4 separate regions of the Homo sapiens genome follow, and all the other regions are linked to region 3. The links come from fine-mapping of genetic effects on gene expression. A gene starts in region 3. Each other region holds a variant in brackets. All regions are shown on one strand. Distances are between the middles of the regions. Region 1 overlaps RELL1 (RELT like 1). Region 2 holds the start of LOC105374406 (a long non-coding RNA gene). Region 3 holds the start of RELL1 (RELT like 1). Region 4 overlaps RELL1 (RELT like 1).

The links. PIP is the estimated chance that this variant, and not a neighbour inherited with it, causes the effect.
Region 1: its variant is fine-mapped to the expression of RELL1 in caudate (GTEx, PIP above 0.99).
Region 2: its variant is fine-mapped to the expression of RELL1 in whole blood (TOPMed, PIP above 0.99).
Region 4: its variant is fine-mapped to the expression of RELL1 in whole blood (TOPMed, PIP above 0.99).

Annotation. Positions count from the first base shown.
Region 1 is chr4:37,661,696-37,666,963 of GRCh38, forward strand. The region is part of intron 1 of RELL1 (RELT like 1); the gene reads right to left. Among named protein-coding and RNA genes, the nearest start is that of RELL1, 22 kb to the right of the region's middle. RefSeq lists a silencer at 1,912-2,206 and enhancers at 4,374-5,268, 4,856-5,268. The variant C/T (reference allele first, on the strand shown) is at 1,963.
Region 2 is chr4:37,759,304-37,764,571 of GRCh38, forward strand. It overlaps LOC105374406 (a long non-coding RNA gene), which reads left to right and starts at 1,744. Exons shown (of 3, transcript XR_001741505.2): 1 at 1,744-1,968; 2 at 3,101-3,223; 3 at 3,465-4,522. The variant G/A (reference allele first, on the strand shown) is at 3,120.
Region 3 is chr4:37,684,323-37,689,590 of GRCh38, forward strand. RELL1 (RELT like 1) reads right to left here and starts at 2,054. Exons shown (of 7, transcript NM_001085400.2): 1 at 1,878-2,054. The coding sequence starts at 1,965. RefSeq lists silencers at 1,593-2,262, 2,443-2,752.
Region 4 is chr4:37,614,665-37,619,932 of GRCh38, forward strand. The region is part of intron 6 of RELL1 (RELT like 1); the gene reads right to left. Among named protein-coding and RNA genes, the nearest start is that of RELL1, 69 kb to the right of the region's middle. The variant A/G (reference allele first, on the strand shown) is at 2,652.

The DNA.
Region 1 (5,268 bases), 23 kb before region 3:
ATAACTAAAGTCACAGTCTCTAAGACCATCTACCCACAGTGGCAATCATAAAGACACAGCATTTGCCCAAGCTCAAGAATATGTTGTAGAGAGAACAAATGGGCTTAAACAGAATTGGAGAACACTGTAAGTCAGTATATAAATAAGTGCTGAACTCTGTAGTGAAACTTGAGGCAGCTACCAGCTTCCAGACAATTCCTAGACAAACAGCTGCTACAACCCCACCTTTCCCCGAAAAGGCAGCTATGACTGGGCAGGGAGGGGACACCCAGATGGCACCCACCTGCCAAAGTCCACCCACCCATGAAACAAAACCCCACCCAACGCCAGCTGCATACAGTCCCTCAATTACTTTTATTTTGTTAAAATTCCTGAAATGCTACCATGAGTCATGAGCCCTGGAGTCTGATTCTGGGTTGCAAAGACCACTCTGGGAACAGATGGAAGCTCAGACAACTTCCCCAATAAAACGTGCAGAAGTCAGCAAAGCCTAGCTATAAATCCTTATTTTCAGATGCATTTGGCTAATGGATGCCTTGAAAAATTATCATTACTAATGATAATTATCATTTTTAATGGGAAAATGCATTTCAACTTACAATCTACTTACTCAAAAGTAGTATTTGGGGCATAACCTATCCTTAAGCTGGGGCTTTCTTCTTAAATACCACATAGATTGAGAAGGGAAGTAACAAAGATGATCCAGAAAGAAAAAGGACTTTATGCTGAGCCTCAACAGAATAACTGAATTTGGCTGGACAAAAAGGGAACAGGACACTCTTGACAGGCAGGAGGCTGGGGCACTCAGAGCATTCCTGAACCCCGGGTTGCTACCAGAACAAAGGACTGAAACTTGAGTGATGTCAATATAAAGAAACATCTTAAAAAAAAAAAAAAAGATGAAATCTAAATATTACCATCCCTGGCTTCAATTTGAACTGAAGAGAGAAAAATAACTTTGCAGAGTCAGATAAAGTCCCTAGCCTACTCCACACTGTCTCGGGTTTACCATTTGAAGTTATTTCTTAAAGCCACAGAACTCCAACACAGATGACAGCTACAGCCACCCCCATCCCCCCATCTTCCCCCACCTCCCACCTCGCCCAAAGCTCCGTCTTGGGAGGAAATTAACTCTAGGATCCCGGTGTCTTGAGAGGCCAAGGACCTCAACTTCTGGACTCTTCCAGAGTATCTCAAACAATGGTTTGCATTCAGGATACAACAGAAGGCTCATCTGACCTGGCCTCACCCCAGACTGGAGCAAGGTCAGCTTGCCAGTTATTTGCTTTGGGATACAGGCCAGGAAGCCACCAACTGTGCCTCTAAGACAGAAGACTGAGGAGATTCCCACAGACCCTCACTGATGGCTGCACACATCAGTGGGGTCCTCAGAGAGGGGCGTGAGGAAAAGCAATACCCGTGGGGCTCAAGGACTGGGAGGGCTCCCTGCTGACTCTCTCCCCATCTTCTTTTCCTGTTCTCCAGCCCCTCCCTCCCTCTTTCGCTGCCCCTCCTCCTTTTGCTATTTTTGGTGCTGTCCATTTGGGGACTTTTCCAAAGTCTTTATTTACTGATAGCACCGTCTGTCTCCTGGGAAGGGGCTGGGTGGCTGCACAACAGGAATGGAGAGAGCCTCTGACTAATGGCTCTTGCGAACCTTTAAAATTACACATTATGTCCACTCAAGAAAGAAATGGAATTCTGAAGAAGTCATTTGTTTGAAGTGACCTTAAAGCAACAGGGCTTCAGAAATCTAATATTTGCTTCAGATTATTTCTGAAAGGTGGTACGTCATAAAGAATGAGTTGCTACTTTAATTGTCAATCGCAGCATTCACACGGGGTGTTAGTGGTGTCAGGCAGTGTTCTGGATGCTTCCTGGGCAATCTCATTCTTCCCTCGCAGCATCTGTAAGGAAGCATCTCTCATTACCCCCATTCGCAGATGAGGAAAATGAGGCACA[C/T]GGGTTCAATAACAAGCCTCGGTGTGTAGGAGGACAGGATCCAACCCAGACAATGGAATCCCGGGGCCCACACTCTTAGCCATGTTGCTTAACAGTGTCTGTAAGTGGCGGTGGCCTTGGGTTTTATCTAGTGACACATGCATTTAGGTGGCTTTGTTAAACTGTCACCAATGAACCACACAGCTGGGCTGCATACAGGTCAACATTCACCCACCCAAGGCCCTTAAACACTAAGAAGCTGCCTCTCTCCAATGACCCTATGATATACGATTAACACTGGAACTTGCACATATCTTCTTCTGGTGTAAAAATCATCTTCATAAAAAAAAGACTGAAGTCAGCTGTAGGTGAATGAAATTTGTAGTGGCTTCATTTTTTAAAAACCTTCATAGCACAAAATTTCCCAATATTAATTTTAACTGCAAAAAACAAAAGATCGACCGGGCGCAGTGGCTCATGCCTGTAATCCCAGCACTTTGGGAGGCCGAGGCAGGTGGATCACAAGGTCAAGAGATCAAGACCATCCTGGCCAACATGGTGAAACCCCGTCTCTACTAAAAATACAAAAATTAGCTGGGCATGGTGGCACGTGCCTGTAGTCCCAGCTGCTTGGGAGGCTGGGGCAGGAGAATTGCTTGAACCCGGGTTGAACCTGGGAGGCAGGGCTTGCAGTGAGCTGAGATCCCATCACTGTGACAGAGTGAGACTCCATCTCAAAAAAAAAAAAAAATCACTCATGTATAACTACTTCATCTCCCTCTATAACTATCATAAAGGTAAAAGTAAAAGACCTTTCTCTAGCTATTGAAAAGCACCTTATTCACAGATGCATGTGTTCACATTATTGCTCAAAAACTGTTATTCAGTGGTTGCCACAAACATAATTTGTACTAGCAATGTTAATTACATGGCATCTAAAAATCTTTCAGAAAAAATATTTAAAAAGAAAGGAGAGGAATAAAGAAAATTTTCAATCATACACATGAGATAGGGACACACAGTACAAGATATAAAAGTTCCCACCCAAATAACACACTTTTCAATGCACTTTCACATTCATTCTTTTATTTGAAATCCCTAATCCCAAGAAGTTAGGTAATATCATCATTCTGTAAATAAATCAGTGGCCTACATGATATCACTGGGTCGAGGCAGAGAAATGAGCCAAGCAGAAGAACCAAAGCTTAGGAGGACATTTTCCCCACCCACCTCACTACAACAGCGCACCACTCAGACATACCACGGTCAAAGGCAGGAATCCCAGCAGGACACAGAACTCGCCGGAAAACCCTGACTGAAGTCAAACACCTCTTTCCCTAAGTGGAGGTGGGGAAGTGAAGGTTTGTACCTCTAATCCCTAACACAGTTCCTGCAACACAGTAGGAGTGCCTGAAACATCTGCTGCAGCAATGTTATATGTGAAAGCAAATTCTCTCATTGCAGAAGGGCTCCTGGGTAATCAATCAAGTCCCCAAGTTCACAGTAACTTTATAAGCAGTTTTGTTAAGATCCTATTTGGTAGAACAGAATATCCAGTGTACTTACACCCCATTTGCCAAATGCCAACAGTTTTTACAAACATAAATAAGTAGATTCTTTTCAGAGCTGGACAACTGATACACCCCACTGCTTCACCCCCTTGTTGGGTAAGTCCTTTCTGAAGGATGTAAATATACCAGCATGCTCCTGGGTTCATCGAAATCAACAGAAGTTTCCAGTTTGCAAAGATCCAAAAGAAAGGCTATAAATAGCAGCACATTCCTAAACCCAGCTTGGGGAACTAGCTCTCAACTGGATTTTCACAGGACTCCAATTCATCCCCAACTGCCAGATCCATAAGGGGACGCTAAATCCGAGCTTACACAACCTCACCAAAGGCTACTGCCCAATTTCCACGTGGCTGCGAGTCCTAACAGAACTGTTCATGTATATTCCTTGCAAGAGGCCAACCAAGAACTAGGTTAGAAATTATTTAAACTATGGGAGGAAGTCTAAGTAGCAAGGGCCAGAAAAAAACCATCAAATAGGAGGAAACACGCCATCTCAGCCTGTCTCCAGTAGCAACGGGAAGAAATGGGGTCAAAGGGGTGCTCCTTTAGGAAATCAGTGAATTCCCTGAAGCTTACAGAGAGCTGGTGCAGGAAACCAGTCCTTGGGGAGCTAGATCCCTGGTTTCTGGGCACAACTGGCACCTGTCAGGGTTAGAAGTCCAGCCAAGTCATTTCTACCCTGCAGAATAGGACATAAACTAATCACATGGGGAAAAAATGGGTGGTGCTGAGCTGGCTGGAGGGAAGCAAGGGCGTCAGAAAGGAAGACTGGCCCAGCACCCGACCAGGCAGAGGGAGAAAGAGAGATGGTGACTGATGCCCCTGTGGAGTGTTGGGGGTTTATGATTTCCAGATCCAGGGCCTCTAGGATGCTCAACTACTTTACCACCAACTGCTAACAGCCACTAACCTTTACTGGAATTTTTACTTACATTATCATTTCTTATCTCTACAACTCTGAGATAGGTGTTAATATTAAACCCATCTTAGAAATGGAGATGATCAAGAACAAAGTATTGAAGCTGAAGTCACTCATCTGGGAAATGGCTGGGCCAACATTTGAACCAAGGTCTGTTGCACGCAGGGCCAACTCTGAAGCAAGACTACTCCCTATGAAGCATGGAAGCAAAAGCAGAAACTGGCTTTTTTCTTGGCTGCACTGTGTTCAATTTGTTTCCTAGCTGTGAAGCCCCAGGCAAGGTCAATTAGCATCTCTGTGCCTCAGTTTCCTCATCCATAAAATAATAATAGTTTCTAAGCCTTATATGAGATTACTAGGGTTTATCCAAGTTAAGACTTGATAAATGCTAGCCATTATTGCTGTGATTATTATTATCTGTGGTAATAAGAGCAAAGCAGTTGCTATCCTCACCAAGCTCACAGCTCAGCTGGGGATATAAAATCAAACATCCAGAAAAGGACAAGGAATCACATGAGCTGGGCTGGAAGGGGCAGTGTTAAATGTGGGGTGCAGAAAAGATAAGCCCTGGGGGTGAGTGAGCAGCGACCACACAGCACTGCTCAGGTGGTACCACAAGGCCAGGCAGGCACCCACATCCCCACATGCAAGCCAGTGTTTCTCTTCCTTCCAGGAACAGGAAGCAGATAATGACTAAACAGAGAACTACAAAAGTCCTAAACGAAGGGTTTTCCAATTAGTCACAGGTTAGGTCGGGCAATGTTCCTGCAAGACAGGCACGTGGGCTGGCTTCTGAGAACATAGGAACTGGAAAAGGAAGGTGAGTAAATGTTGAGC
Region 2 (5,268 bases), 75 kb after region 3:
CTTTGGATGGTCCATTGCTCCCTTGGATGCCTAAGTTTGAATACTAGGCTGGGCACAGTGGCTCATGCCTGTAATCCTAGCATTTTGGGAGGCTGAGACAGATGGATCCCTTGAACCGAGGAGTTCAAGACCAGCCTGGGCAACATGGCAAAACCTCCTCTCTACAAAAGATACAAAAATTAGCCAGGTGTAGTGGTGTGTGTCTGTAGTCCCAGCTACTTGGGGGGCTGGGGTAGGAGGATCACATGAACCCGGGAGGTCGAGGTTGCAGTCAACCGAAATTGCACCACTGCACTCCAGCACGGGTAACAGAGTGAGACCCTGTCTCAAAAAAATAATAATAATAATAAATAAATAAATAATATGTTTGAATCCTGACTGTAATCATTAGCCAAGAAATCTTTATGAAACTCAGTTTTCTAATCTGTAAAATAGGAGTAACATGCCTACCTAAAACAGTTACAAAGTCTAAATAAGTTAATACATGCAAAGCACTTAGAAGAGTGCCTAGCATCTAGTAAGCCTCAATAAATGTTATCCAATCTTGTAAGTATTATTACTACTATTCATCAGACATTCCCTTGAGTAAGATGGTCCTTTCCACTGCCAATGAAAGAAGGCTAATTTGAAATAACTTTACTCAAAAGTGGAAATAAGAGGATCATCTGGCTGGGAAGTCCAAGTGCAGGGACAGCTTCAGGTATGGCTAGATCTAGGATTAAAACAATGGCATTAAGGCCCTCTCTTCTCCATTGCTCAGCTCTGCTTTTTCTCCAGTGGTGGGTAACGCAGCCTCTCTCCACAAGGTGGGCAAATTGTCCACTGGCAGTTAGGTGACACCCTGAGCCTCAAGCACTATTATCCACAATTTCAGAGAAAGAGGCCCTGTCTTCTCCAGCAGACATGCATCATTATTCAAGGGTGACTCCAAGGGGTCTTCTTGGGTCCTTGCCCACGCCTGAGCAAATTGCTGTGCTCAGAGATGGAGTACTAAGATCAGCTAGTGTGGGGCCCAAGGTTACTCCTGAGGCAGAGGTGTAAGAGTTACTCCAGGAGCTCATGGAGTGGGGGAGGAGAACAGTTACCAAAAGGAGTCATGTGGACAAAGACATGTCTGCTCTCTCAGGACTGAACATCCTGCTTCAGTTTGTTCCACATCCATTTATGTATCATTTGTATTTGATCATATGTATCACCTGATAGTTACCATTTTTTGATCAGTTACTGTATGTCAGGAACTACTCTAGGAGCTGTACATAAAAGCTAAATGTAATAATAGCTAAACCTGAATGAATATTTGATACATGCCAGATTCTAAAATATGTATTCTAAACGTATTCTTATTTAATCTCCCCAATAACACCATGAGGTAAACACTATTATCATCCCCAGTTGAGAACACTGAGGTTCAGAGGACTTAGGAACGTGCCCAAAGCCATACCTCTGAGTGACAGAGCCAGAATTTGGACCTAAGGGAATCTGACCACAGGGCCGTTGTTCTTCATGTTCTGACCATTTTACTCTCATAAAAATCCCATGAGGTAATGTCTTATTAAAACCACTGTATTACAGGCAATGAGATAAGACTCAAAGAGGTTAAGCAAATTACTCAAGGTCATGTTCAGGCACTATGCTATGCAATTGTGAGCCAGAGATGGAGACATAGCCCCTGACAAGGCTGTTGTGTGTGGTTGCCCAGCTTGAGCACTGCACAAAATTGCCTCATCCATTGCAGAGGGCAAAGGAGGATGAGGCTTGAAATTTAGCCCAAGTTCTGCTCATAAACCTTGGCCCTGACCCTGGCTACATTGCACAAATTCTACAAGCCAAGATGTGTCTATGAAGCTGACGCTAACCAGAGGCGGAAGAGCATTACAAATTGAGTGAAGCTCCTAGTTGGGTTAACGGCAGCCCTGGCCCCAGGATCTCAAAAGCAGCCTGAAAAGCAGATGATGACAATGGAACATGGTAAGTACTGAGCAAGAGACTTCCCCAGAGAGCTAAGTGACCCAGGACAGGGGCATGTGGCTGCTCACCCTGCCACATCCAGACTTAAACAGGTCCAGTGGGCCACCTAGTCTGGTCACACGACACTCAGGGCTGCCAAACAGAAGGCTCCCCACATGAATGGGAGTACTGGGCCCATTCAGAGCCTGCTCTCTGAATTCACCCTGAGCAGAGCAAACCTAAGTGGACATTCTAGCAGCCTTAGCCTTCTAGACAGGACAATTGCAATCCCAAGACAATTGTAAAATGTAAGATACATGTTCAAGAGTGTGGGGACAGATAGCTACTCATTAATTTTTGTTTTGTTTGTGAGACAGATTCTCACTCTGTCACCCAGGCTGGAGTGCAGTGGCGCTATCTCAGCTCACTGCAACCTCCACCTTCTGCGTTAAAGCAATTCTCCTGCCTCAGCCTCTCAAGTAGCTGGAATTACAGGTGCGGGCCTGGCTAATTTTTGCATTTCTAGTAGAGACAGGGTTTTGCCATGTTGCCAGGCTGGAACTCCTGATCTCAGGTGATCCGCCCTCCTTGGCCTCCCAAAGTGTTGGGATTACAGGTGTGAGCCACTGCGCCCAGCCATTCATTTGGATATAGAAAGATAGAGTTTGCTAAAAACACTGGAGGGAACTGCTAGGTGCCTATCCCATAATCATTCCCCTTATTCCTTGCTATCAGAGCCCTAATGTTCTGTAATATTGGGCACCCACATGTTACACAGATTTCTTCCTGGCTCTAGGAAGTGGAAGTGGGGAGTAAATCTTGATTAATCTAAGCTGACTATCATAATTTGGGTTCCTTCTCAAGTAAAGTCAAATACAAAGAGTTGCTTCAAGTAGTTTATTTGGGAGGTGATCCCAGGAAACTGCCTGAAAACACAGCTTCAGAGATGAAAGAAAATGTCCATAAAGCATCAAGCACAAAGCCCTGATCACAGCAGGGAAGGATGTATGTCTAATTATTACCTTGAGATAGTTCCCTCCTGGTTTGGCATAGAGGTGTCTGGGGCTGGGTAGGATTTGTCACATGTGTGGCAGAATTAATGGTATCCTGATGTCTAATCACGTGATGGTGGGTTCATTTTCAACATTTGTAGGATATGCAGCCCCTGGGGC[G/A]AACCTGAGTGTTTGAAATGCATGGCAACAATGTTTAATTCATGGCAACAATGAATCAGTGCTCTAAGGAAGAAAGAAGTGAATGGCAAGATTGCACTTGCCCTGTAAGTGATGGGGCAATCCTCTCTTTCAGGGAGCGAGGGTTGGGGAGTGGGGGAAAGGCATGAGATTCTACTCTGTTGAGTTGTCTCACTGTGCTTAATGAAACTTTTAAAATATAATACATCTCTGGAAAAGGGTGGGAGAAAATGAGAATGAACTCCTGTGGAGCACTGAAAATCCACCTCATAGTGAGGAATTACTCTACCACAATCTTTTCTTACTTTCTCTCATGTTTCACTTAAGCACAGGACTGCCAGCCAGAAACTACATTTCCCAGCATCCCTTGCAGCTTGGTATGGCCATGTGACCACATTCTCATTAATACAGGGTGAGTGTGCCACATCCAACTCTTTTGTTCAAAAGAAATTGCTTTTCCACTTTCTGGAAGCTTTTGATGTAGTTTTGAGCATACAGAAGAGGGCTGGTTTATTCTAAGTATTGGGAACCCCTTCCTAAGGTCAAACTCTGAGGTTTAGGATGTCAAAGCATAGGCTTATCAAAAAAGCTTCTGATCACACACACACACACACACCGTTAATGCAACATTGACTTCCTCTAACAAGGCAAGTAGGGAGAGAGACGATAGCGGGAGAGATCTGGCTGGTCAGTCTTTCTCTGCCTCCTTTGCTGCTGACCCCAGGCAGTGTGTCTATGACCTCAGCTAGCAAGATTATTTTCTCTTGTCCATAGAAGGAGGTTGGACTCTCCCCCATACTGCATGTCAAAAACTGTAAAAGCCAGGTCAGCATTCTTCAAAAAGATTTATGAGATCAATGCTCCGTGCTCAGTAACAGTAGAGCAGAGCAGTCTGGACTTCTATGCAAAACCTTTCCTTAGAGAACTGGGGGTTACAGCAGCAAGCAGAACTGGGGGTTACAGTATTAGCTTAGATACACATTGGTGCCTCCACAGGCTTTCTTTCCAATGCAGACAACTTGTTTACACTGCTTGCTTTTTGAGTATAAACATTAAAAAAACTTTTCTTTGTTTCTTTTTTTTTTTTTTTGAGACAGGATCACAGGATCTCAGGATCTCACTCTGTCACCCAGGTTGGAGTGCACTGATGTGATCTCAGCTCACTGCAACCTCTGCCTCCCAGGCTCAAGTGATCCTCCTACCTCAGCCTCCAGAGTAGGTGGGACTACAGGTGCATGCCACCCTGCCTGGCTAATTTTTGTATTTTTTGTAGAGACAGGGTTTTGCCATGTTGCCCAGGCTGGTCTCGAACTCCTGAGCTCAGGTGATCCACCCACCTTGGTCTCCCAAAGTGCTAGGATTACAGTCATGAGCCACTGCACCCAGCCTAAAAACTTTTCTAAAAGACAACATATTCAAAAATAAATTTCATGGGAACATTTTAATGACATTTCTTAAGTTAACATGTTTCTGATTTGTCAAAGTGAAGTGTAAACACTGTCCAAATGTAAACACTTTCGAAGTGTAAACACTCTCAAAGTGTGTTGGAGAATACAGATCCTCTTATGTGGAAAGGAGTAGTGAGGCGGCCTTTAAACACTTACACAAAACACAAGCATTGCAAAGACATACTCTATGCGATAGAGAGGCAACAGGATCCTGAATGAACAGGTGTAGCCAAGGTGCTCTGCCAACGTGGACTTCCTGGACTGTGATTGGAAAGAGCAAAGGCTTCTTTCTTTCTTAAGCCACTGCATTTTTAAATTTCTTTCTTATAGCTGTCTAACCTTTATCCTGACAAATACACTGAGTAAAACAGAGCGAGTAGACAATCAACATTTGCTGAATAAATGAATAAATGTATAAGCAATGTGTTAGTGAATACAAATTTCCTCATACATCTAGGACAATGTAGCATCCTATATTGTTTTATTTGTTTCTGGGACAGTGTCTCCAAAGATAGCTCCAACCTGAACAGGGTCACACTGAGTCACATTGTGCCTGGGTAGGAGTGCCAGCTGCAGAGGGGGGTGATGGGTCCACCTCTGTGTCATGCAACTGCTAGTGTGACACTGAGAAATTAGGGTAGGAACTCTGGCCTCCAGGTGTTCTAAGAAATACAGACAGCAGC
Region 3 (5,268 bases):
GTTTCTTCTTCCGCATTAATTTTCATCAAAAAAAAAAAAAGGCTGTCATGCAATTAGATGAGAGCTTTCATCAGTCACATTCTAGTCCTGAGACCTGGGTGTTGCTCAGAGGTCAAACCAAACACACACCCACTCTAGGGATGGATTTCTCCTGCTGATGATGGCTAATTACATGCATCATGTGCTGAATTTTTAATAATTTTACTCCCAGATTAAACTCTTCCCCAGATTCTGTTGCAACTGACTCTAACCCTCTAATGAATGTCTCCAACCTCACATCCAAGTGGAACCTGATTATGCACCTATGTGTCCCAGCAATCAAACGCAGGATGAAAATCAAAATGAACCAGCAGGGCATGGTGGCTCATGCCTGTAATACCAGCACTTTGGGAGGCCGAGGCAGGAGGATCACTTGAGGTCGGGAGTTCGAGACCAGCCTGGCCAATATGGCAAAACCCCATCTCTACTAAAAATACAAAAATTAGCCGGGCATGGTGGCACATGCCTGTAATCCCAGCTGCTCAGAAGGCTGAGGCAGGAGAATCACTTGAACCAGAGAGCTGGAGGTTGCAGTGAGCCGAGGTTGTGCCACTGCACTCCAGTCTGGGTGACAAAATGAGCCCCTGTATCAAAATAAGGAAAAGAAAAAAAAAATTGTCCCATCCAGTAAAACATGTCACTAGCTGCCATTTCCCCAGGTGGATGGCTAACGGAAATACGGGCCTGCTAAAAAGACTCAGGAGACAATATTATCCATCTCCTTCCCTTCCAACCTGCTCTGGTTTCTATGAAAAAGTGAAGGCCAAACTGCTAAGTCAGTGTAAAAGTTGTAAGCGACTGAAATGTTCTCAGGAGGAAGAGTTTATGGATGTTTATGGAGGAGACAGTCACTGTTGAAAGGCTTCCAGTTGCTTATTATTTGGGCCTGAGGAGGAACCACCGCTGAAATCAAGCTTGGAAGAGCTTGCTGACGTCAGATTCCCAGCTGTAGTAACCCCAAATGGCCAAGTAAGTATGTTTTTTTTTTAACTGCAGCTGTTAGGTGGCAATTAAGAGGGGAAGCGGTGGTAAGGAATCCCTAGTGTCTGTAATTATAAAAGCAAGGATGTGACATAGGACTTCCATAAAACTTACACCTCCTCTTAAGATTGATTTCAATTAAAAACTGCTTCATCGTTGGTGACACTTTAGCATCTCTGTTGGTGGCTTCCTGCCCTGACCACACAAGGTTCCTTTCGTGACGACAGGAATCAACAAAAAGAAGAAAAAAATGTAAGTTTACCAACGCGCCTTCCCTTTTTCCGAGCCTGATTTATACAGGATATATGGGAAGAAATGTGGACTCCTTGACCTGTTACAAGAATCCATCAACCACCCAAATAAATGGAAACGTGGAAAGAGATTCAAAGTCCTCCAGGTTTTAGGATATTTTAAGGTATTTAAAAGGGAGAAGGAGGCGCCGACAGCGCACCCGGTGCTCTGTGTCACGATCTTCCGCTCGCGGCGCCTTTGAGGACAAGGGCGGCGGGAAACGGGTCCGCGGGGTTCCGAGGCGAGCGGCCGTGGAGGAAGCGCCCCCGAAGAAGGCCTGGTCCCTACGCCCCGCACTGCCCAGCGCTGGGGAACACAGATCCTCGGAGGAGGCCCCAGGGAGGGAAGGCGGGAGCGGGGCCCGCGGGAGGGGAGGGACGGGAGCCGTTGCCACGCACCGCGCCCTGCCCGGACCGCCGCGGGACAGCCAGTTGTTCAGTGCCGGGATCCCGCGGCTGTGCCAGAAAGCAGGACGCCGCGGGGCTGCCGTCCCGACCCCTCGCTTCCTTCCGCGCTCCCGGGACCGGGCTCAGCACCCGGCGCCCCGGCTACGACCGGACACTCACCCGGAGCCACCAGCGGCGAACTCACGGCGCCTCCCACGAAGACAGCAGCGGCTAGGACGGCGGACCCCGGGAGTGCCCGCGGAGCCATCGCCGCGTCGCTTCGCCCTCCTCCCCCAGGGCGCCGCGTCCCGCGCTCGGGAAGGCAGAGCCGCTCCGGAGCCGGCGGGCTGATCGAGTGGCTGGGCTGGGCCCCAGGGAGCGGCGAACCCCGCCCCGCCATTGCCCCGCCCCACGCCACACCCACCTCGGCTCGGTCCCGCCTCTCCCCGCGCGCCCCGGGCTCCACCTAAGCCGGCACGAGGTCCACTCATGGCTCCGCCCCCGACTCCCCGCCCACCTCAGCCTGATCCCGCCTCTCCCTGCCATTCCCGCTTCCTTTCCAAACCCCGCAGCAGCCTCAGCGGCGTAGCTAGGCCATGGACACGCCCTCTTTCTCCACCCACCTCAGCTTGGCCCCGCCTCTCCCTACCGAGCCCCGGACTCCACCTAAGAAGGCACGTGGCCCATCCATGGCCCCGCCCTTTTCCCCACCCACAGCTCAGCCCGACCCCTCCTCTCCCGCTTCCTTTCCAAACCCAGCAGCAGCCTTGGCGGCGCAGTTAGGCTATAGCCCCGCCCTTGCGCCCTGCCCACCGTGGCCCGGCCGTGCCTCTACTTGCCAGGCCCGCTTCCTTTCCAAGCCGGGCCGGGATTACGCGGGAGCCCGGGGCGGGGGGAGGGTCGCCCGGGTGCAACCTCCCTCGGTCGCTGGGACTAGGCGGGCGTGGGAAGAGAAAGAGGGAGCGCGCCCCGAGAAGCACTGGACAGTCAGAAGCGGCCAGCACTGGAGTGAGCACAGGCTTTTTTCGCTGTTGGCATGTCTATCCACTAGCATTCCCCTCGGTTGCAGATCTAGGGAGTGATGCTGTGCTGGATGTCACGTTCTGTTGTTTGGAAATTAGCAGAAAAGATAACTTAAATTTCTTCCTCTGTTTGTTTGCATTTAAGCTGCTCCTATTGGGGAAAATACCTCTATGCATTTTCAGGAACAACTTGCCTTTTTTTTTTAATCGTGTGCTTGTATTGCACCTTGCGCATACTCCCGCAAAGTAGGTCTTTCAATGCCCAGACGCTTATTATCTCCTCACATCCTCACATCAGCTCTGCGAGGTGACTATTAGAGGCCAGGGAGTAAACCCACGATGTCTGGGCCACCATGATAAATTGTAATTATCTCATTGTCATTGTGTTTGCTCGCTGCTGTGCCCTCAGCGCCTGGATGGAGGACAGACAGCACACGCTAAGAGGTCAGAAGTGTTTTCTGAAGTTGAATCATCTTCACAAGCATTAATAGGACTCAGAGGCTCTCTCTGAATAGTTCCTTTTTACTGCCCTGTAGAGACTGTTGTTACTGGGCCATCAAGCATTTGCTTGAAGGAAATTAGGGCAGGACTTGAGCAAATACTCAACACCAGCAAGAAGAGGGGGTGCATGGAGGCTGTGGGTTTTCACAGGATGGGTCTCATCCTTGAGGTGACTGATAACCTCTAGTTTTCAGAGGACTATTTATTCTCTCACCGAGTCCTCCACGCAGTCTGCTGGACTATTATTACAAACATTGCATTGATGTGGGAATTGCCAGTGACAGAAGCTCAGGCCACTACAGTACAGATGGCTGAGGCTGAAGGATGGAGCCCCTGCCCTTTGAAGCCCAAGGAGGGCACTGCGCGTCCTGCGCTCAGTTGGCAGCGCATCCTACAGTCTGGCAGTCTTAGCAGGCAGCCTTTGCTAGTTTTATATCAACATAAACATTGAGAATGTGTGCGGAGGAAAGCGATCCATGTGGATTTCTAACTAAAACAGGAGAGAATCCCGGACCTAGAAATTAAACTATAAATTAGAAGTTGTAGCCAGAACCAGCTATAAAATTTGCAGGGCACAATGCAAAATGAAAAGGCAGGGCCTTCTGTTCAAAAATCGTTAAGAATTTCAAGATGGCAACAACACAACATTAAATCGATTGTGGAGCCCTCCTAAACACACAGTTGCACAGGTCACACACTTATAAAGCCAGCTCTGGTTTTGTAAGTTAGAATGTAACAAAATGCTTGAATCAAGAAATCTAATCAAAATGTAAAATGTCATTTCAAAATTGAATCATGTTTCACTCTTTTCCCACAGATTGGACTTAGTATTAAAAAGATGGGATCGTTTTTGGCTGGGCGCAGTAGCTCAAGCCTGTAATCCCAGCACTTTGGGAGGCCGAAGCAGGCAGATCACGAGGTCAGGAGATCGTAGACCATCCTGGCTAACACGGTGAAACCCCATCTGTACTAAAAATACAAAAAAGTAGCCAGGCGTGGTGGCGGGCGCCTGTAGTCCCAGCTACTCGGGAGGCTGAGGCAGGAGAATGGCGTGAACCCGGGAGGCGGAACTTGCAGTGAGCCGAGATTGTGCCACTGCACTGCAGCCTGGGCAACAGAGCGAGACTCCGTCTCAAAAGAAAAAAAGAAAAAAAAAAAAGAAAGACGGGATCATTTTTAACAACACATTTGAATTGTATATCTGTTATGGCTCTTCAAATATAAAAATCTAGTACTTAAGCCTTACCCATTATCTACCAGGCCCTTTGTTTTACAGATGAGAGATGGTTAAGTGATCTGCCTGACATATCTACTATGAGCCAGGGTTGAAACCCAGGGCTCTGAAATTTCTCTTCCTAAACTTTCCATAACACCTGCTTGACACACTCTCTATAAATGTCTTACTTTCACGTACCCCGTATACATGCATTTGTATGTCTTGTTAAAGGAATGAAGGAAGGGTAGGAGGAAGAGAGGGGGAGGGACGGAGGAAAGTGAAGAAGGGAAGGAGAGAGGAAAGAAAGAAAATCAAGCTTAAATTATTTTCCATATCCTTAACCCTACAGATTTATTCATACAATTTAAATAGCTTCTACATATGTATATCTAAAAATCCACTGTTTTATTTTAAAAGTAAGAACCCCAATGTAATGGAACTTCTATTCTCTATTATGAAGGGAATGTCATATTTCTTCTGAGGACATAAAATGGAAATCTTAAAACTAAGTTGTATTTCCATTTTTTCAGAAACAAAAGTAGAGTTTTAATAATTCTTAAGAATAACTGTCATTAATTAAAAACAATAATCCTCATTCTGCCCTTAGATTTAGCCCAATCCTATGGTGGGAACTCTTTTTGTATTCTTTCATCAATTCCTCACAATGATTTTATATTTAGGGAATCATTGTTAACACTCCTCACTTCAAAGCTGAGGGATTAGGGCATTTACCTGAGTCACATGGCCTCTCCCTGGCACCACCAGGATGCAAATCCAGGATCAGCTCCCTTGGGCCCACACTTGCAACCTCCTCTTGCACTATTCTGCCTCT
Region 4 (5,268 bases), 70 kb before region 3:
AATGGCCCTAAAAAAAAAAAAAGGAAAAAATGAGAGGGAATTTTCCAGGCAAAACCTTAAACTAGGCCATTATCTAGAAAACAGGTATGGTATTCCACTGTTTTTATGTCTCCTCTTTATGTGCTCCCTTAGAACTAGACATTTTTGCATCAAGGAAAATAACAACGTCAAAGGTGGGGGATGTCAGGCCTAGAAACTAATGTTTCATCACAGTAACAGTTTTCACTGCAACCTAGAAACACTCCTCATTTTGAGTGTTTTGCACAGATTTGACCGGCTTTAAGAACTGGGCATGCAAGAATACAGGCTAAGCTAAAAAGGAGGGGCCTGGATTCAAATCCAGACCCCTACTCCCAGCCGTGGAACCGTGGCTGTTTCTGTAGCATTCTCTCCTAGGGTTACTGGGGATTTGACATGAGATGATCCTATGCACAACGCTTAATACGAGGAAAAGCAATCAGTATGCTCCGAAAGGTTAACTATTCTGGTCATTACCATCATCCAATTCTCTGCTCTCAACAATCACATTAGCTTTCTTCAACAGCTGCCTTCTGCAGCTGATAAAAACTGCACTATCTGTAATATCTTTGAGAGAGGAAGTAAAAAATACAAATCACTGCTTAAAGTCCTCACTGCTAATACCAGAAACTAAGCAGAAAAGGGAAAGCTAATCTTATTAAAACCCTTGCAGTTCTGGTCTCTAATTACAAACACACATTTATTAGAAGGTAGCACATTACTGGCACAACACTATGACCTTCCAGGTATTTCTTTAACCCAGAACAATAATAAAAGTGTTACAAGGTGCCTTCCATATTGTCCTGCAGCAGTCAGAAATCATGTGTGGGTGGGCACAGAGACACCAGAAAGGCTAACAGGAGTGGGTGAGAGAGGAAACACCCACCCACTCACTGTTCCCAGTTGCCATCACATGGGACCACACCACACTGAGCAAGCCTGGCCTATCTCTCTTCGGGAGAAATTTTGTGATGACAGTTTACACAAGTGAGTACTCAAGCTGGAAAAAATTAAGCGAAGTTCCATTACATGGAAAACAGAATTCAGAAATCCCAAAGTGTAACCATTTTGCTTATAAAACAAGACTGATGGATAAAAATTAAGAACCGCCCAGAAGATTTATCTGGAACAAAGGAAGAGGTTGTCTTTTTCTTTAGAGTTTATTGCTTATGACATAATCTTATAAAGATAAAGCCATAATCCTCTCATTATACTATGGGTCCACGGAAGCTGCCATATGTCTCTGATTAGGATATACATACAAATATCTATGCCTTGTTAAAAAGGATTCTCTAGAAAAAAAAAAGAAATTGATCCCTTTAAAAATTAGAAACATGTTATAAGAAACTAGGAGCCTAAGCGGATTAATGAACAGTAAATGCTAAAATCTCTAAGTGTAGGATGTTAAGGAAGAAAAAGTCTATCTGATTAATAATAACAGCACTGGCATTTGCAGAGCACTTTCTCTGTGCCAGGTACTGTCATGCTAAGCACTCTAGGGTCATTAACTCAATCTTCCCGATGACTCCATAAGTCAATGATTCCTATTTTCATAGGAGGAAACTGAGGCTTCCAGGTTCAATAATTTACCAAAGGCCACACAATTAGTAACGGGAAAGTAGGAAATCCATCCCAGGCAGTAAGACCTGGAAGACCACAAAGCTACCTCCATGCTGCACTGCTATCCAGTCACCCCGGACACACCCACAGCATCACTGGAATCCTCTGGTACCCTCGCTTCTCTGCTCCCCACCTGTGTGGCAGGCAACAGAAAGGAAATGCAGAAACTAGAAATGCTGCCAGGGTCTCTCTCAGGGGAAATCACTGTGGTTGCATGAACAGTTAAATGATGCTAAAAACCTATACTTTAAAGGGGCCCAGTCCCTGGGAAGATCAAAAGTATACACCTACACAACACTGAATTCTGATCTCATTCTAAGACAAGGCTATGGAACCACACAGTCGGATTAATAATTCTCTTGACCACTTTTAAATAAAATAAATAGAGAACGTTGTTTATAGAGCTACATGACAGCAATATTAACACTGAAGTCCCGGAGCTACATTTAAGTGATCAATCACTAATAATCTGTGCTCCTTTAAGGCTCACACTTCTTAGTTAGAGATTTATCTTGTTCCAGGCTCTACTGACCATTCTGCAGTTACACGCTTGCAGGTTATGATGGCTGTGCATGTGACACCATGGTCCTGCAATGGTACTGCCTGCGTAGATCGGCATCTTGGCAGATATCGATTAATGGAATCACATCACAGAGTATTCAGTGCTTATAGTCCTTTAAATCTTGCTCTGGTCTAAATTGTGTGTTAAATTTTATAAATTAACACGGATACCTTCTTATTTTAATAAAGGCTCTTGTTTAACAAACCCAATAGATTCATGCTAATCTAGGCTAATCCATGCAATCTTTTAAAATCAGTGTTTCCCAGAATGATCAGCAGAACCTGCTTTAGAATCGGCTTAAATATTACCAAAAACTTCAGATTCCTTGGGCCTCTCCCTGAGACCTACTAAATCAGAGTCTACGGGGTTGCAGTCCAGGACTCTGCTTTCCTATAAGGTGCTTCATTGATTCTAATGCACGTATGAAGGTTTAAGCTTTTAGGTAAGACCC[A/G]GTACTAATGTTTTTCAACTGATTAAAAACAGCAAGAATTAAATCCGCTTCCAAAGGGTAAACCCTGCAAACACAACACTATAAAGTCAGCGGAGGTCAAAAAATACATCTCAGAAATGGGGGCGAAAACAAGTATGACAAAATCACTTAAAGACTGAAATATTAATTAAAAACTTCAGTAACTTGGCCAGGCATGGTAGCTCATGCCTATAATCCCAGCACTTTGGGAGGCCAAGGTGGGCAGATCACTTGAGGTCAGGAGTTCGAGACCAGCCTGGCCAACATGGTGAAACCACGTCTCTACTAAAAATACAAAAATTAGCTGGGCATGATGACGCATGCCTGTAGTCCCAGCTACTTGGGAGGCTGAGGCAATAGAATCGCTTGAACCTGGGAAGCAGAGGCTGCAGTGAGCCGAGATTGCACCACTGTACTCCAGCCTGTGTGACAGAGTGAGACTCCGTCTCAAAACAAAACAAAACAAAAAATCAGTAACTCAATTTTAAAATTACAGAATCTGTTTTTAAATGTATTTCAAAGTAGTTGGGAACTAGAATTCGACTAATTTGCAGAGGGCTCTTGTAATGATGAGATGAATGCCATATTATCACACCTGTTAAGGAATCACTGAGGGCCAACTATGTACAAGATGCCAAGATGCCACCTAAAGTCTCAGCAAAGGATGAGAAGACACCATCCAAAGGCACTGCCCAAGTCCTGAAGGAGCTTAGTGTATGCAGGGAGGAAGCTTAAACAATCAGCTTCGACGCAAGAAAAACTGAGCCATGCTGCATATCATTTTTAAACACAACTGGAATATTTTATAACTTGTTTTTTTCATCTAATAATATACAGTAGATGCTCTGTGTCTGTACATATAACTCTACATCAATCTTTTTTTCTTTTTTTTTAAGAGACAGGGTCTCACTCTGTTGCCCAGGCTGGAGTACAGTGGCACAATCATGGCTTGCTGGAACCTCGAACTCCTGGGCTTAAGTCATGGAGTTCAAGCTACCACTTTATCCTCCCATGTAGCTGGGACTACAGGTGCATGCCACCCTACTCAGCTAATTTTTTATTTTTTTTTATTTATTTATTTTTTTAAGTAGAGACAGGGTCACTATGTTGCCCAGGCTGATCTCAAACTTCTGGCTTCAAGCAGTCCTCCAGCCTCAGCCTCCCGAACTGCTGGGATTACAGGTATGAGCTATCACACCCAGCATCTACTTCAATCTTTGGCATTTGCAGGCCATTATGAAATGCATAAGGCACAATTCATTTACTTAATCTCCCATTGATAGATGTATTTAAAGATGCTTCCAGGTACTTGCTACTATGTAAATAATGCTAAAGTGAACAACTTTGGACATTATCTTTGCATTTATGCATGATATTTATTAATTGGAATAATTTGGTCAAAGAGTACATATTTAAGTTTTTACAGTTCCAGATTGCCACCACAAAGGTCTAGACCATTGTAGCCTCCTGCTTTGGTGTGGGATAATGTCCATCTCCCTGCACCCTCTTGATTTTTGTTTGGTTGGTTGGTCGTTTTTCTTTTCTTTTCTTTTCTTTTCTTTTGAGACGGAGTTTCGCTCTCGTTGCCCAGGCTGGAGTGCAATGGTGTGATCTCGTCTCACTGCAACCTCCGCCTCCCGGGTTCAAGTGATTCTCCTGCCTCAGCATCCCGAGTAGGTGGGATTACAGGCATGCGCCACCACCCCCAGCTATTTTTGTATTTTTAATAGAGATGGGGTTTCTCCATGTTAGTCAGGCTGGTCTTGAATTCCCAACCTCAGGTGATCTACCTGCCTCAGCCTCCCAAAGTGCTGGGATCACAGGCGTGAGCCACTGCACCCACCTCCCTGCACCACATTTTTTTTTTTAGAAGGAGCCTCGCTCTGTCACCCGGGCTGGAGTGCAGTGGCGCAATCTCGGCTCACTGCAACCTCCGCCTCCCAAGTTCGAGCGATTCTCCTGCCTTAGCCTCCCGAGTAGCTGGGACTACAGGCGTGCGGCATCACACCTGGCTAATTTTTGTATTTTTAGTAGAGTCGGGGTTTCACCATATTGGCCAGGGTGGTCTTGAACTCCTGACCTCGTGATCCACCTGCGTCAGCCTCCCAAAGTGCTGGGATTACAGGCGTGAGCCACCGCACCCAGCCCCTGCACCCTTTTAACCAAGGTGACCACATGAACCAGTTTGCCTGGGAGGTCTTGGTTTATATATGTTTACCCAGAATAATTATTCACAGTGTTCCCTTTTATTCTCTGCAGAGTCTCTCTCTGTCACCCAGGCTGGAATGCAGTGGCATGATCCTGACTCACTACAGCCTCCAACTACTGAGCTCAAGAAATCCTTCCACCTCAGCCTCCCAAGTAGCTGGGACTACAGGTGTATGCCACATGCCCAGCTAATTTTTTAATTTTTAATTTGCAGAGACAGGATCTCACTATGTTGCCCAGGCTGGTCTCAAACTCCTGGCCTCGAGCCATCCTCCCACCTCAGCCTCCCAAAGCACTGGGATTACAGGTGTGAGCTACCTCCTCATTTTGGATGTGAGTTATATGGTCATGCTAGTGTTAACATTCATCTTTGTCACCAGAGAAGCAAAAA